2 separate regions of the Homo sapiens genome follow, and region 1 is linked to region 2. The links come from fine-mapping of genetic effects on gene expression. A gene starts in region 2. The other region holds a variant in brackets. All regions are shown on one strand. Distances are between the middles of the regions. Region 1 has its middle 25 kb from the start of CYTL1. Region 2 holds the start of CYTL1 (cytokine like 1).

What was found. PIP is the estimated chance that this variant, and not a neighbour inherited with it, causes the effect.
Region 1: its variant is fine-mapped to the expression of CYTL1 in whole blood (TOPMed, PIP 0.97).

What each region holds. Positions count from the first base shown.
Region 1 is chr4:4,990,277-4,999,277 of GRCh38, reverse strand. No RefSeq gene overlaps it. Among named protein-coding and RNA genes, the nearest start is that of CYTL1, 25 kb to the left of the region's middle. RefSeq lists an enhancer at 3,799-3,948. The variant C/T (reference allele first, on the strand shown) is at 3,980.
Region 2 is chr4:5,015,479-5,024,479 of GRCh38, reverse strand. CYTL1 (cytokine like 1) reads left to right here and starts at 5,022. Exons shown (of 4, transcript NM_018659.3): 1 at 5,022-5,187; 2 at 7,301-7,345; 3 at 7,516-7,644. The coding sequence starts at 5,035. It also overlaps a transcript of STK32B not described here.

The DNA of each region.
Region 1 (9,001 bases), 25 kb after region 2:
ATAAAGAAATAGAGAGAGAAGAATGATATAGACACAATAAAAATGATAAAGGGGATATCACCACTGATCCCACAGAAATACAAACTACCACCAGAGAATTCTATAAACACCTCTATGCAGATAAACTAGAAAATATAGAAGAAATGGATAAATTTCTGGATACATACACCCTCCCAAGACTAAACCAGGAGAAGTTGAATCCATGAATAGACCAATAACAAGTTCTGAAACTGAGGTAGTAATTAATAGCCTACCAACACAAAAAAGCCCAGAACCAGACGGATTCACAGCCAAATTCTACCAGAGGTACAAAGAGGAGCTGGTACCATTCCTTCTGAAACTATTCCAAACAATTGAAAAAGAGGGACTCCTCCCTAACTCATTTTATGAGGCCAGCATCATCCTGATACCAAAACTGGGGAGAGACACAACAAAAAAAGAAAACTTCAGGCCAATATCCCCGATGAAAATTGATGCAAAAATCCTCAATAAAATACTGGCAAACCAAATCCAGCAGTACATCAAAAAGCTTATCCACTACAATCAAGTTGGCTTCATCCCTGGGATGCAAGGCTGGTTCAACATATGCAAATCAATAAATGTAATCCATCAGATAAACAGAACCAATGACAAAAACCACATGATTATCTCAGCAGATGCAGAAAAGGCCTTCGATAAAATTCAACATTCCTTCATTTTAAAAACTCTCAATATACTAGGCATTGATGGAGCATATCTCAAAATAATAAGAGCTATTTATGACAAACCCATAGCCAATATCATACTGAATAGGCCAAAGCTGGAAGCATTCCCTTTGAAAACTGGCGTAAGGATGCCTTCTCTCGCCACTCCTATTCAACATAGTATTGGAAGTTCTGGCCAGGGCAATCAGGCAAGAGAAAGAAATAAAGGGTATTCAAATAGGAAGAGGGGAAGTCAAATCGTTTCTGTTTGCAGATGGCATGATTCTGTATTTAGAAAACCCCATTGTCTCTGCCCCAAAACGGCTTAAGCTGATAAGCAACTTCGGCAAAGTCTCAGGATACAAAATCAATGTGCAAAAATCACAAGCATTCCTATATACCAATAATAGACAAACAGAGAGCCAAATCATGAGTGAACTCCCATTCACAATTGCTACAAAGAGAATAAAATATCTAGGAATACAACTTACAAGGAATGTGAAGGACCTCTTCAAGGAAAACTACAAACCACTGCTCAAGGAAATGAGAGGACACAAACAAATGGAAAAAAAATTCCATGCTTGTGGATAGGAAGAATCAATATCATGAAAATGGCCATACTGCCCAAAGTAACTTATAGATTCAATGCTATTCCCATCAAGCTATCGACTTTCTTCACAGAATTAGAAAAACCTACTTTAAATTTCATATGGAACCCAAAAAGAGCCCATATAGCCAAGACAATCCTAAGCAAAAAGAACAAAGCTGGAGGCATCACACTACCTGACTTCAAACTATACTACAAGGCTACAGTAACCAAAGTAGCATGGTATTGGTACCAAAACAGTCATATAGACAAATGAAACAGAATAGATACCTCAGAAATAACACCTCACACCTACAAGCATCTGATCTTCAACAAACCTGACTAAAACAAGCAATGGGGAAAGGAGTCCCTATTTAATAAATGGTGCTGGGAAAACTGGCTAGCCATATGCAGAAAACTGAAACTGGACACCTTCCTTACACCCTATACAAAAATTAACTTGAGATGGGTTAAGGACTTAAATGTAAAACTAAAAATCATAAAAGCCTTGAAGAAAACCTAGGCAATACCATTCAGGACATAGACATCGGCAAAGACTTCATGACTAAAACACCAAAAGCAATTGCAACAAAAGCCAAAATTGACAAATGGGATCTAATTAAACTAAAGAGCTTCTGGACAGCAACAGAAACTAGCATCATAGTGAAGAGGCAACCTGCAGAATGGGAGAAAAAGTTTGCAATCTACCCATCTGACAAAGGTCTAATATCCAGAGTCTACAAGGAACTTAAACAAATTCACAAGAAAAAAAAAATTCAAAATGTGGGCAAAGGATATGAGCAGGCACTTCTCAAAAGAAGACATTTATGTGACCAAGAAAAATGTGAAGAAAAGCTCATCATCACTGAGAAATGCAAATCAAAACCACAATGAGATACCATCTCAAGCCAGTCAGAATGGCGATTATTAAAAAGTCAGGAAACAATAAATGCTGTTGAGGCTGTGGAGAAATAGGAACACTTTTACACTGCTTGTGGGAGTGTAAACTAGTTCAACCATTGTGGAAGACAGTGTGGTGGTTCCTCAAGGATCTAGAACCAGAAATACCATTTGGCCCGGCAATCCCATTACTTGATATATACCCAAAGGATTATAAATCATTCTACTATAAAGACACATGCACACGTATGTTTATTGCAGTACTATTTTCAATAGCGAAGACTTGGAACCAACCCAAATGCCCATCAATAATAGACTGGATAAAGAAAATGTGGCACATATACACCATGAAATACTAGGCAGACATAAAAAAGAATGAGATCATGTCCTTTGCAGGGACATGGATGAAGCTGGAAGCCATCATCCTCAGCAAACTAACACTGGAACAGAAAACCGAACACCACATGTTCTCACTCATAAGTGGGAGTTGAACAATGAGAACACATGGACACAGGGAGGGGAACATCACACACCGGGGCCTGGGGCCTGTCAGTGGGTGGAGAGCAAGGGGAGGGAGAGCATTAGGACAAAACTGGGTTTAAATTGAACCAGAAGTCTGGGTTTAAATCCTGACGCTGACTCCTCGAAGCATCTCTTGGCTTCAGTTTCCACATCTGTAAAATGGGGTTCATAATAATACCTACTGAATAGAGTTGCGTGAAGAGCCATGTAAGTTATTTCGTGGAGAACATTTGGAGAAGAGGCTGGCACACACCAATGGTTCACCACCGATGGTAGCAACTGTCCTCAGGAGGGTGCCCCCGGGAAGCAGGGAGGCAAGGCTGGCGGCAGACAGATTGAGCCTGAGCAGGGCCTGGACAGGCATTGCCTCTCAGGAAAAGGGTCAGGGAAAATGTGGTATAGCTCAGGGGAAGAGTGAAAGCTTGGCCTGGATACATCGAGCATGAGCATCGACAGCAAAAGCCAGAGGCCCCGAAGCCAGCCAGGCTGTGGAGGGGGAGCCTTGCCAAACGTGATTAATTATAAACAGATTTACGCTTGCAAATGAGGTTCTCTGCTAGCAACTATTTAGGCGGGGATTTTTTACACAAAGCATCAGTGTGACCTCTCTATGTGCATTTCTAAAGTGATTAACGATTCTCCAAGGTCAAGTTGCAGTGGTATGTAGATTCTTAAAAATCGATCTATGCTCGTTAATGCCACCAATAACTGAAGCTGAGAAACTTAACATTGTTTGCCTTTCACAATTATTGCCCTCCAGTCTGGGCATAAAACGTAGGCCAGGACCTGCCAGCAGGCTGCTTCAGCCAGGTTCCTCTCCGACTGTTCGGGGCCCCTGCACCCACCTCTCCTCCACCCAGAGGGACGTTCTCAGGACACTGATCTAACCTGGTGCACCCAGCACACCCAACCCCACAGCCTTCCAGGGTCAGCTGTGCTGACGGAAGTCCCTGGGGTCACAGGAAAGGTCGCCTGGGAGAAGGGCTGGTGTGGGTCTAGCAGCGAGTCCCCGGGGTAACCTAGGCAAACCCCTTCCTCCTTCTCTGCCTGCTTTCCCAGGTGTAAGTAGGGGACCCAGGAGGGGATCATGCTGTGGTTCTCCACGGCCCTGTCCAGCCTCCCTCCTGGGTCCTTTCCCCTGGCTTGGGCAAGGGGTTGGGGTTGGTGGTGCTCACCGATCGTGTTCCTGTCCCTTAAGTTGCAAGGCCCTCAGTGGTGACCTGGGACCAGACGAGGCTGACTGCGGACGTTGTCCCAAACTTCATGCAGAGGGAAAAGCACCGCTGCC[C/T]TCTAGCGGCCTTTGGCCAGAATGACCTTGGGCCGAGGTCCTAAAGGGCTGCCTGTGGGGCTCAGTGAAATCCACATTTAACAGCGCTGAGTTCCCACTGCGTGTCAGGACCCAGTGTGCCCAGTGAGGGGCACATGCCTGCCCATGGGAGACTCACTCCTGGAGAGGGATAGGTGCATGGGTTGGGTGGGCGCCACACATAGCGCCTTTTAGCAAAGTGACCTTAACCTTTCTGCATCCCTACTTCATTCATCGTTATAACTGGGCTAAAAATAAAATGACTTCCTTGCAGCAGCTGAGCACCATGACTATGTCCCAGATCCAGCGCCTGCTCGCTGTTCCCACTGCCCCCAGCCTGGACCAAGCCTCCAGCCTCTCTCCCTGTTCTCCCGGCTCCCGCCTTGCGCTGCACCTTTCCTTCTGCACAGGGCAGCCAGGGGACGCACGGAATCCCGCTGCAATCCGACCACGCCATCCTCTGTCCACCACCCTCCAGTGCTTTCCAGCCCACCTGGAGGAAAAGCTGAGTCCCAGCTATGGCCTCTGGGATCCTACAGGATTTTGGGCTGTCACCTCTCAGGTCTCAGGACCTACCTCTCCCCAGCCCACCACAATGCAGCCACACAGCGCCCAGATGCCTGTCCTGGAACGTACAAGCCTTCCCCGGGAGCTCCCTGCCCCCAGGTAGCAGCTCACCTGACGTCCTCAACTTCAGGTTTTCCCTCTGTGTATCCTCCCTGGAATTTCAATTTCAAATTGCAGCTCTCACCTGACAACTCCATCTCCACTTCATTCTTCTCCGCCACACCTGTTGCTATTACAGTCTACAGTTTACTTATTCATTTCACCTAATGGCTGCCTCCCCCAACCAGAATGTCAGCTCCATGGAGACAAGGACTTCTGTCTGTTTCATCCCTGACTGTGCCCTAGCATCTATTATAGTACATAACTCATTGCAGGTGCTCGATAAATATTTGTTAATTAAACAAACACGTGAGTGAACAAGTTTGGATTAGTATCAGCGAGTGAATCTTGGGCGGGGGGGTTGGCAAATGTTATCTCCTAGTATTGTTTCTCTGAGCTAACATCGAATATGAAATGACCAAGGGCGGGTGTCCTCACTGCTGTGGGGCACAGAAATCCCTTTCTCATAGTTTCCTAACCTCAGCAAGGCTCTTGGGGGGTGGGGACGGGCAGGAGGACATAGAAACTGGGATTGGAAATAAATAGGAGTTTTCCCGGGTGAGGCGATGTCCAAGCCAGGAAGCAGCAAGTGTAGAAGTCACAGAAAGGTGCATAGAAAGGGAGCAGGGTCACCAGGGTGGCTGGGACCAAGGGTGTGGGAGTCCAGGGACCCAGGAGAGAAAAGGAGGAGGAAGACAGGTGGTCACTTGGCACACGACTTCGCATTAAAAGCAAGCTCTGCATTGAAAAGCTTGGGTGGGCTGGGTGCGGTGGCTCACACCTGTAATCCCAGCACTTTGGGAGGCTGAGGCGGGTGGATCACGAGGTCAGGAGATGGAGACCATCCTGGCTAACACGATGAGACCCCATCTCTACTAAAAATACAAAAAATTAGCTGGGCATGGTGGCACGTGCCTGTAGTCCCAGCTACTCGGGAGGCTGAGGCAGGACAATCGCTTGAACTCAGGAGGCGGAGGTTGCAGTGAGCCGAGATCACACCACTGAACTCCAGCCTAGCAAGGGAGCGAGACTCTGTCTCAAAAAACAAAAAAAAAAGCTTGGCAGGGCTTAATGTACAGACCACGTGGCGGTAGGTTGGGGTTGGGCAGGAAGGGTTGGAAACCAGGGAGGTGAGTGAGCATTCTTGTGTTCTAGAAAGGTTGCTCTGGTTGCTGTGTGGAGGCTGGAGGATCCAGGGAGCCCCCCAGGAGGCTGCTGCACTAGTCCAGGTGAGAGCCCATGGGCTGTGGGGGGACAGCAGCAGGAGGGCTGAAGAGGAGGTGGCAGGTGGGGGATGGGAAGCCTATGGACCAGAACAATCAGTAGAAGGGCAGGGGAGTGACAGGCATGATTCCTGGATCTTATATGGCCATGACCTGGATGAGTGGAATGGAATCTACCTCCTGTGTCCCTAAATCACTTTTTTCTTCTGGCATTTCCCCATGGTTTTTTGGATTGTTAGCCACAAATATGATTCAAGACCTAGAAAACCTGTTTTATTCCCACTTAAAAATAATTAACAGGGCCTTGCTAATATTGTTGTAAATGCTTTGGATGGTACTGGACCACATCAATAGGAGTAGAGCGGCCAGAATATGGGAGGTGATGCCCCCTGGATACAGCTCACGGCACCTGTCCCAGCGTGCAGTCCAACCCAGAGTGAACACTGATGTGTGTGCCAAGAGGAGGGACCCCCAAACACACACCCAAATAGCCACTAGGAGCGTCAGATGAAGAATCTCGGGGTGCTCACCCTAAAACTAGGAAGACTTGGAACAGATAAAATACCCAAGAGCTGGCCGGGCACGATGGCTTAAGCCTGTAATCCCAGCACTTTGGGAGGCCGAGGCGGGCGGATCATGAGGTCAGGAGATCGAGACCATCCTGGCTAACACGGTGAAACCCCTTCTCTACTAAATATACAAAAAATTAGCCGTGCGTAATGGCGGGCACCTGTAGTCCCAGCTACTCGGGAGGCTGAGGCAGGAGAATGGCGTGAACCCGGGAGGTGGAGCTTGCAGTGAGCTGAGATCACTCCACTGCACTCCAGCCTGGGCGACAGAGTGAGACTCCATCTCGAAAAAAAAAAAAAAAAAAAAAAAAGAAAAGAAAAATACCCAAGAGCTCTGTGGCTGTGTGCCTTGCTTCCATCTGGGGCTGGAGGTGATTATTAGCTTTGTTCCAGTTGGTGCCAAAAAGTAGAATTAAGAGCACGCATGGAGGCCAGGCACAGTGGCACACACTCATAACCCTAGCACTTTGGGAGGCTGAGGCAGGAGGATCTCTTGCGTCCAGGAGTTCAAGACCAGCTTGGGCAGCATGGCAAAACTCTGTCTCTACTAAAAATACAAAAATTAGTCAGGTGTGGTAACACATGCCTGTAATCCCAGCTGAGGTGGGAGGATCGCTTGAGTCTGCAGGACGAGGTTGCAGTGAGTGGTGATGGCACCACTGCACTCCAGCCTGGGCGACAGAGCGAGGCTGGAGTCTGTCTCAAAAAAAAAAAAAAAAGAAAAAAGGAAAAAAAAAACAGCACGCACGGAAGCGAGAGCTGTCCAGGGGTGTCCAGGAATGAAATTGGCTGGCCTGGGCATAGGAGTAAGCCCCTCATCCCAGGAGCCACCAAGGAGAGACAATGTTACCTCTTGGGAAGAAAGTAGAGGGCATATCTGCATTTGAGGTTGGACAAAGTGACCTTTAGTCATCCTCCCAAAACTGCAGATTCACAAATCTGTGAATGAAATGTCCCGAGAAGGGAGCCGTGAGAAGGCCCTGAGAAGCAGCCACCCGCCCCTGCCCGGATTCCCACTCCCGTCAGGAGACACCTAAACCGAGAGAGCCAGCAGGCTTGAGGAGCCCGTGTCCACTGCCCCACTCCACAGACGGGAGCACAGAGAGTGGAGGCAGGATGGACTCACACAGCCTCACATATCTCACTCCTGCTCACTCCTGCCCAGTGGGCCGAATTCAAGACCCCTAAACGCCTCCGCTCACTCTGTTTCCTTATATTTCACTTGTGATTTTTTAAAAGGTCAGTTTATTTCCTATGATCTGCAAGAAGGCAACTGGTATGTGAAAGGGTGAGTGTGGGTGGCTGTTTCCAGTTAAACAAGAGAAAGTTTTTCTAACTGTGTCAAAACTGTGGAGGAGAGACTGGCTAGGCTTCATTAGGATCAGCCCGCGGCGCCCAGGCGCGGCTTAGTCACTGTGGCTTCCTCACTCCTCAACACTTAACCAGCATCTTTGGTCCCCCACCCCCAACCCTGACAAATCTTTAGGCTCTGCCTGGGGCTTGGTGGCAGCCGTCCGAGGTTCTCCAGCCCTTGACAAAGGTCAGTCTGTAGGCCCATCACAGCCAGAGAGCATGGAGGCTGTGCTCGGGCCCTGCTGACTCATGTGGCTGACAGCCAGCGATCCAAGGCTCCACGGGCACTGCTTTGCATCACAGGGTGTCAAGCCAGTGGCAGGGACCCACCCAGGCCAGCCAGTCTCCACTCCCAAATCCAACCCAACCCCGCCCTGCTGCAGGGCTCTCAGCCTTGGGCACTGGGGGCGTCTGGGGCCACCTAGTCCTTTGTCGGTGGTGGGGCTTTGCACTGTGGGGTGTTTAGCCACAGACCCGGCCTCCACCCACAGGATGTCAGCAGCATCACCAGATGATGGCCCAGTCATGACAGCCAAAAACGCCCCAGACATGGCCAAATCAGGGCCCAAATCAGCCCTGTGTTGAGAAGCTCTGAGCTACAGCCAACAGCATCCTCCCTCTTTGTCTTGTTTCCAAAATATTCTTGTGAGGTTCTACAGGAAAAAAGAAAAAAAATGCCTAAGTTTTTATGTCGGGATGTGGACAAGAATGGGAGGCCACAAGCCCTGGCTTGACCCCATGGAGGTCGAGGGTGTTTTACACAGGGCCATCACACATGGACATCACCTTGCTGGCACCTAGAGGCATTGACTGTGCCATCCCTAACCCAATCCAGCCCTCTCCTATCATGGAGGAAGAAAGTGCAGCCCAGAGAGGTTAAGCAACCAGCTGGAAGTCACACAGCAGGCTTAGTCATCTAACCCCCTATCCAGTGCTCTTTCACCACCCTACACCAAGCCTGGATCCAGCCAGCACTCACCAGGAGGCTAAAACTTTGCGGAGGCAAAACATCCCCTTCCAACAGGAACTCAAGACAAGGGCAGAACCTCATTTTCATGTTACAATGCTGTGAAAATGTGCAAAGTAAAATGTGGTAAAAACATGGGTTGGGGCCAAAGCGGTGGAATGAGAAAATACTGCTTGCCATGTGAGCCGGCTAATAAAAGGAAGAGCCCAGAATTGTTTGTTGCGAT
Region 2 (9,001 bases):
TGGCAGAGAGATATTAAGAGATTTAGTACAAGGAATTGGCTTGCATGATTGTGGACATTGGCCAAGTACAAAATTGTAGTAGGGTAGGCTTTCAGGAAGTGCAAACTGGAATCACCAGAACAGACAAAGCTACTCCACAGGCAGAACTCTTTCTTCCTCAGGGAAGCCTTGGCTGTGCTCTTAAGACCTTCCAACTGAGTAAATCAGGCCTACCCAGAGTATCTAAAATCATCTCCCTTACATAGAGCTTATTGCATAAGGACTCTAATTACATCTACAAATACCATCACAGTAACATCTGGATTAGTGTTAGAATAACTGAGGATGGTAGCCTAGTCAAGATGACACATGAAAACACTATCACAATATAGAACAGAGAAAGAGATAATTCCTTAGTGACTTCATTGAGTTCCTGGATCAAACCATTCCTGAGCTCCAGATTCCCTCTATATTTTCAAATTGCACTTTCCAGAAAACCCAGACTTTGGTGTCTCATGCTGAATTTTCTGTAACACACAGCCTACAGTCCTAACTGACATAGGAAAGGCTCAAAACTGATAGCCTCATTCTGACCAGATCTCCCAGGAAGGGTTGTGTTCCAGTCTGGGTCCCACATAGTGTAAGACTCATGGACACACAGCAGGGTTTGTGTCTGGGAGCCAGGGAGACTTTGAAACAAGGAGGAGCAAGATTGAATTTCTGCTTTAGAAATGGCCACCGGGAGGAGATAGGGCTCTAGACAGAGAGGCGTTAATCGTGATGTAATTGAAGGGTCTTGAGGCCACTTCTCATTAAAAGGGTTCACGAAGTGGGGATGGTAGCTCCAAAAGAGAGTTGACTCTGTTTTGAGGGGCAGGGAGGAGTGGAGGTAGAGACATTGAAGAATGAGAATGGTCTTAACATCGCCACACCTCCGTTCTGCATAAGAAGGTACAGGATTTGAAGGCCTGCACCAGGGTGTCATCGCATCTCATCTCCACCCTGGGAAGAATTTGGAGCTGCCCAGAGACTGGAAGGAAGTTGTAAGAGGCAAAGAGCTCCCTGTCCAGGGACGTATGCAAGCAGACTCTGGACAAGCACTTGACAGGGAGACTGTAAAGGAAGGATAAGCAGCAGGCAGGTAGATCTGGATAATTTCTAGGTTCCCACATTAATTTCTGTTATTCTACCAAACCCCAGAGAGACAGTATGCTTGTTTCCTGTGGCTGCTGTAACAAATCACCACAAACCGAGGGACTCCAAGCATCACGAATTTATGATCTTACAATTCCGGGCTCAGAAGGGGTCTAACTGGGCCCGTTTTGGAGGCCCTAGGCAGGAATCTTTCTTTGCATTCTAGAGGCCTCCTGAATTCCTTGGCTTGTGGCCTCTTCTCCCATCTTCAAAGCCAGCAGCACAATATCTTACAATCTCCCTCACTCTCTGTCTTTCACAGAGACACACACAAACACACACATATACACACACACACACACACATGCCTTCATACCTACCCCGCTTCCCCACTGCATTCGTCACCTCTCAGCTCTCACCTGATAGGGAGCAGCTGCCAGTGATGGGTTAGGGGCTCCAGAAACACTAGGATTTCTGCCATCACACCACTCACCCAGAGTGTCAGCTGCCCTCATCAATCTCCTCCGAGAGGATAGCAACTCTGTCATTCACTGTCTTTTCACCCATCTCAGTGCCTGGCACACAACAGACTCTCGATAAATAGATAGACATGCATCTGGCAAATGAAGAACCCATCCAAAGGCAATGGCCGATATCTACCTCAGAGATGTTCACCTGCTCGTTAACTCTGACTCTTCAGCTCTCCTGCATGATGGGGTCCGTGCCCGATGTAAGACATTAAGAAAACCAGAAGAGACCTTTTGGCGGAGACAAGGGCTTACCTGATTTGTGGGCAAATTCCTGCCTGGATTTTTAATATTCGGAGCAGCCAACTGCTGAAGGAGCCTCAGAAGGGGGCAGAGAAAGAGCTGGTGGGAGGATGCAGGTGATTCGTGGTGAAGGAGACATTTGAGAACAGAACACACGTGCGGGGGTCCACCAGCCTGTATCCAGTGCGGCGTCTCATAGGGAGCCCCTGGTGGGGAGCCACGTCAGGCTGTCCTGCGTAGGTTTCTTAGTGGGCTTGTGCCTTAATCTCTGAGTAACACGAGTAGTCACCAAGTCCATTCAGCCACACCTTACTGGTCATCCGCTCTACCTGGCTGCGTGCTGGGTGCCGAGAAACAGATGAGAAAGACTGTCTTTCTCTCCTAGAGAAGGGCATGGTCATTAAAGGAGACAGATGCCAGGAGGCAAGTCAATGTATCATGCATAGGATGCGGAGGAACCCTGGAGAGGGCCAGAAAGCAGATAGAATTCCCGGATGCACACTGGCATGCATTGGGCTCGGCAGGCAAGCTTGTGTGTGTTGGGCTCGGCACAGGCTGTTTCTCCTTGTCTCCACCTGCCCTGGGAATCAGCACGAGGCACCCTCTCCTCTGGTGTTCTTCCCATTCATCCCACTCCTGGCTTGGTAGAGTGAGAGGTGGCGATTCTCTTGCACCTGGCCCAGTGCACAACAGCCTCATTCCTTGTCTCCCCACTGACTGTGACTCCTCAGGGGCCCAGCATCCACCATATCTCAGTTGGTACCAGTGACAGCTTATGGCTACAGCCACTTACTCATTCATTCTCATGCTCAATGGGAAGGCCTATAAGCCTCTTTGCAGCTCTGAGCTCAGCTGATTTACCCAAGAAGTCCCATGAATAACCACACACGGTATTGCGGGTGGAACAAGGTCAAGTCTCCCAGCAGTACATTTATCTCACAAATGACTCCTGTTTTCCAGCACAGCAATGTCTCCTTGATCTAATGGTGCAGGACTTGTTTGGTCCATGGGCTTGTTTTTCTTCCCTGCTCTGAATTTAAGCCCATTCCTTGAGCACATCCAGAAGCCCTAGAGCATTTTAAAGCAGACCTAGAGTCCCCAGCTGGGGCCAGCTATTCTGCCAGGGAGGCCCATGCCCCAGGCACTATCATGGAGGGAGTGTGGAGACTCCTTCACCCAGAAGAAAACACATCTGTGCCTCCACTTGCCACCTCCAAGCACACACAGTTCTGCCCGAAGGCCGCGGTCCCTATGTCATCTTGCTAAAGGTGTTTAGAGAACACATTCTCACCTACAAAACAGGAAGGCACAGCTTACAGTCCCTGCCCAGGGCTTTTACCACCAGAAACTAGATAAATAAAACACTGGGGCTGGAAGGAACCTCAGACATCGCCCAGCGTGATGCTATCCTGTTTACAGACAGGGAATGGAGGCCAGGTCGAGAAGGGATTTCTCCTGGCAAATACAGTGGGGACAAGCTGGAGCCGGGCTTCATCCCTGTGGTTGATCCTCAGTCCAGCCCTGTGTCCAGGATGCCATGCTCTGGTTCACCCATCCCTGTGGGCTGCATCTTTGGTTGTTTTGTTCTGGGAATGTGGAGCTTGCCCAGGATGCTCCCCTTTCCTCCTTTGTTGGAGGAAGCTTTGGAGGCAGGAAAGTCCAGACATAGCTCCAGGGCTCCACTGCTCTTCCCAGCTTCACATCCCCCGAGGCCCTCAGTTTCCTCGCCTGGGAATTGGGAATAACCCCATTCACTTCATTGGCTGGCTGTGAGGGTCATAGCGTTCCCAATGGCAGCTGGCCTGGTGGCTGCTGGTATGTAAGTCATGTTCAGTGTTAAGGAAGAATCTTCTCCCTTTTGACAGTTCCTTCTTGCTTGTTGCCTGATCTTGGGCAGCCTGAGGACCCCAACTCATCTCTGCCTGCAAGAGTCCTGCTCCTCACCCATCCTGCCCTGTGGGATGGAAGAATGGCAGGAGGACAGGGCCTGAAGTCTCATCCCAACCCATGTGCCTCCAGCTTTGTGACCTCCAGCAAGTTGCTGGAACTCTTGAGCCTCAGTTTTCCCACCTGGAAAATGGGACTCTTTTCTGTGGCACCTACCTCACAGAGACAATTGCTGGATTTAACAGAGACAGTGCTATTAGCTCCGATCACTTGGAAACACACAATGGGCCTGGCATGAGGCTTGCTCAGTCATGCTATATCCTGTTGATTCCTCACTATGGCCTTTTGAGTGAGCCACTCTCACCAGCCTCATCTCACAGATAAGGAGATGGAGGAAACACTGAAGAAACTTGCCCAAGGTCAAAGCCAGAAGGCGGTGACCCTGCTTTGCACCCACGGCGTCTAAGTGGAGAGCCTAGACCTTTACCTGCCACTGTCTTGGGAAGTTAGCCCTGAGGGAGATGCACTTCTTGAAAACTAACCCTTCCTGAGGGTCTGCTCTCCCTCGGGGCCTGTGCTGGGAGCTTGAGGTAGAAGAGGGTGGGGGTACTCACACTCCCCACACATACGGCCGCTCAGTGAGCCCATCCTCCGGACCGAGAGACACACACGGCTTCTGAGAGGCTGGGGGCCCTGGCCCAAGGCTCACCTACCTGGTTAGCGATTGATGGACGAGGACACCGGTGGCCTGACCGCAGCTCTGCATCCCTGCTCCACTGCGGGCTGCCTGGAGGGAGGGATGCTCAGTCATCCCCTGCTAGTCCCTTTCCCTCCTGGCACTATATCCATTTTGACAAACCGTGCCATCCAAACCCAGGCCTGACTGCCCACTCCTCTCCTCTGACCCTCCCCTCCTTCCATCTCTGTCCTCCTCTTATCCCCCACCCCTCTCCATCTGCTGTTCCTGCCTTTTCAGGAAAAGTCCCTGTGCAGAAAGAAATTTCTTGCTGAAAGTGTGGGGGAGGCAAAGCCACCCTCTGTCACCCCCTCCTCCAGGCAGCCCCTCCTCTTAACCTGGGGCTTTCGTGTCTGAGAGGATTCCTGTCCCGACCCTGCCCGGTGGGCGTGCTGGCTTCCTCTCTGCCACCCTGGATGGACCGCAGCCTGCGCTGGCCCCACAGGAAGTGGAGGCGTGGAGCCGCCCTGGACCACCCCCAGCCTGCATAAAGGGGCGGTCGGCGAGGCTGCACCAGCGCCTGGCACCATGAGGACGCCTGGGCCTCTGCCCGTGCTGCTGCTGCTCCTGGCGGGAGCCCCCGCCGCGCGGCCCACTCCCCCGACCTGCTACTCCCGCATGCGGGCCCTGAGCCAGGAGATCACCCGCGACTTCAACCTCCTGCAGGTCTCGGAGCCCTCGGTGAGTCCCCCGCCCGCTCAGGACAGGGGTGCATGGCAGACCCAGTTCTTAAACCCTTGCCTTTACACGAAAAAAAAAAGAGAGAGAGAGAGAAAAGGATATTTTTCTTTTCTAGTAAATGTAAATCTCAGGAGTATTTGTGTTTTATTCATCTCCTTTTAAATATGATACCAATGGTTTGCTTTCTTCAAAACACAAGAAAAAGTAAAGACAACACAATTTTTGTGACTTACTAGCAAATATCAAAGGATCTGTTGTAAAATGTAAAAAAAAAAAAAAAAAAAAAAAAGAAAAAAGAAAAAAAAAGGAGTGGGAGGATGGGGAGAAAAACAGCTCCCCATCAGAGTTAAGGAGGACGGAGGAATGAAGCTTGTGTATTGCTTTTGTTAGCCTAGTGAGGAGTGTGCCCTAAGAGGTGGCTCACAGAACTGGCCTCCGCCCCTCATCTGCTGAGGGACCCGGGCAAATTTCTCAGCCTCTGCCTTTCAGTTTTCTTGTCTGTAAAATGGGATGACAGTAGCACCCCTCCCTTTAGAGTGGCTTTGACGATCAAAGGCAGGTGTGAACACAGGCAGGGCTCACAGAGCCAAGCCTACAGGAACAAGTACTCAACAGATGCCAGCTGATGTGAGCACGATCTTCAGAGGCAGATCTGGGGACTCAGAGAGGGGAAGACCCGGGAGGGCTTTTGGGGACTAGAACCCAGGCCTCTGCCTGCTTCTCCGTCGAAACAAAATGCATTAAACTTCATTAAAAGCTTTTGTAAAGTTTCAAAGTGTCTTTTAATCACTTGCAAATGCTTCAAACAAAACATAATGTTTCTCAGATGTTGGGGTTTACAAAAGCCTAGCTAACACCTTCTTGGTATTTTCTTTTTAAAAGTTAAATAACATGTATTTTTTCCCTAATTATAAAAGTATTGTACTTTGTAGAACAGTTGGAAAATAAAGTACAAAGAAGAAAAAAAATCTTGCTTGTAATTCTACCACCTAGAGGTAGCTGCTGCCGTAGCATTGTGGAGGATCATATTTCAGCTTTCTGTCTACATATAGGTATTCAAATACGTGTGTGTTGTGTGTGTGTGTGTGTGTAAACAAAATTTGGGTCAAACAGCACAAGCAGTTTTGCAACTTACTTTTTAATGACACTATCAAATAAGTTCATTTTTGTTTTAACATTTTGTTGTACAGTTTCACCACAATTTACCCACAAGTTTCTTGTTATCGAATATAGACAGCAATCATCTTTTAAAGGAATCTGATTTTAAAAGGTTTAAAAAGTTCAGAGGCTCTGAACCACAGAGCGGGAAGAAAGTGGAAAGATTATGCATTCTAAATCTCTAATTTCACAACTGAGGACTGAAGGAAGGCACTTGCCCATGGTCACACGGGGATTACTGAGAGGGCAGAGCACGAGGGCTTTTGCCCTTCAGCCCTGCGCAAAAACGGAAGCCCAATATAGAAATATAAAAGTATGCAAATTTATGCACTTCGATATTACTATATTATACACTATATACAACTACATATTAGCTATAGAATGCCTATAGAACAATAGGTATTATTACATATATCGTACTTATGTAAGTATATATAATGTCTATAATTACATGCAGTTATACAACTGTTATATAGCTAATATACTTATATAAGTTATTATATAAGTATATTATTATATAAGTTACTATATAACTAACTTATACAACTGTTATATAACTAAATAGTTATAGAACTGTTTTATAGATGTACATATATACTCTGTATGTATACTTGTATTACTGTATTATATATCACTATTTCTATATTACAGTTATAGGACTGCTTTTATGTATATACGTGTATGTATATTTCTGAATGGGTATGCATATAAAACAGCTCCCTGGTTCATAGCAAATGATATAAAAGTTGTATTCTAAAAGTCTAATTCCGGAAGCGCAGTCGCCCATTTCTGGAGGAGTGTGACGTATGACACAAGAAAGTACTGTGCATGTCGTAGCATCAGGGAGGGCCCCAGGGATCTGGGCTGGTCTGGCTGTTGAGAGGGCCACTAGGGAGACTTTTGTGACCAGGTATGCCCCTGTGGGCATCCCAGAACCCCTTATCCCTTTCCACAGGAGCCATGTGTGAGATACCTGCCCAGGCTGTACCTGGACATACACGTAAGAGGGTTCTCCCTGGGGGAGGGAGGTCTTGGGCTGAGGGACTCAGGTCTGAACCTCTGCTGCTGGCTGTGTGGCACAGAGTCAGGGAGAGATCTTATGCAGCTCAGTCCCTGTTCCTCTTGCTACTGACTTCTCCCACAAGCCCCCTCCCCATTGCCCACTCCCAGAATTACTGTGTGCTGGACAAGCTGCGGGACTTTGTGGCCTCGCCCCCGTGTTGGAAAGTGGCCCAGGTAGATTCCTTGAAGGACAAAGCACGGAAGCTGTACACCATCATGAACTCGTTCTGCAGGAGAGTAAGTGGATGCCATTGAAAGTCTATTTTCTACTTGCTATCAGCCAAGACTTTCTGAGCTTTTCAAAGAGGAGAGTTGGGAGGAGATGGTGACAAGGAAGAGGAGCAGAGATGTTTCGCAGATGCTTTCAGTTCACAAAGCCCTTTCTCAACCATGGTTGCCTTGTTGGGTGATGGGGTTCAGGACAAGGCCCTTTGTCTCCATGAGCTGCGCATTGATGCAGGGGCTACACCCCAGGACCACACCCCAGCCACATAGATAGACTCTGCCAGGAGCCAAGTGAGGCAGGGTAGAGGAGACTCTGCAGGAGGAGGTTCAGGTGTGCTCTGATAAGAGGATTCCGGTAGGAGAGGGTAAAAGGACAGAAAATCAGCAATAGTTAAAATGTGGAAAGTAGAGGCATGTGATTGCAGGGCACAGACTTCAGCATCAGAGAGCCCTGAGCTTGGGTCTGTATCTCCCTGCTTCCCAAGTGGGAGTGCCTGTCTTAGTCTGTTTCTGCTGCTATAACATAACACCACAGACTGGGTCAGTTATTTTTTAAAAAAAGATGTTTGTTTAGCTTATGGAGGAGGCTGGGGGGTAGTCTAAGAGCATGGTGCTGGCATCTGGTGAGGGCCTTCTTGCTGCATCATACCATGGCAGAGGTCATCACTCAGCAAGAGGGTAAGAGCCAGAGAGAGTTCACTTTTTTAACAAAGCCACCCCTGCAATAAGCAACCCTCTCCCAAGGTAGTGACGTTAATCCATTCATAAGGGCAGAGCCCTCATTAATCCATTCATTAAGTCAAAGCCTACATTAATTCACCTACAAAGGCAGAGGGATTAAGTTTCCAACACATAAACTTTTGGGACCACATTCAAATCACAGCAGTGTCCCTTCACTCCTCTGAGGCACAGTTTCCTCAGTCCTGAACTGAGGACATGGTAGTGCCCATCTCATGAGGTGGATAATAATAATTACACCCTTACCTTGTGTGGGCACTGCAGTAACTCCCTTGATCCTAAGAAGCCTAGTAGAGTGACTAAATATGGAATTGCTAGCACCATGCCTAGCCCAGAGTAAGCTCCTCTGGAAACTGCAGTAATTAGCTATTAAGTTATAATTTCTTGATCCTGTATGAAAGATGTGTTATGAATTTTCCCCCACACCCAGTTTCCTCCTCCTCCCTGCTCCCTTTGGTTTGTGGGGGAAGATAGGAAGCTGATACAATTATGATAACAGTGTGATGAGAAGTGGTATTGATTGAAGTGAGGTCATTCCAATGCCTGACCCAGGGTGCTGCTCAGCAACTAAGGTTCATTCATTTATTCCCTCCCTCACCCATAGTCATCTATCCATCTAGTCAATCAATGT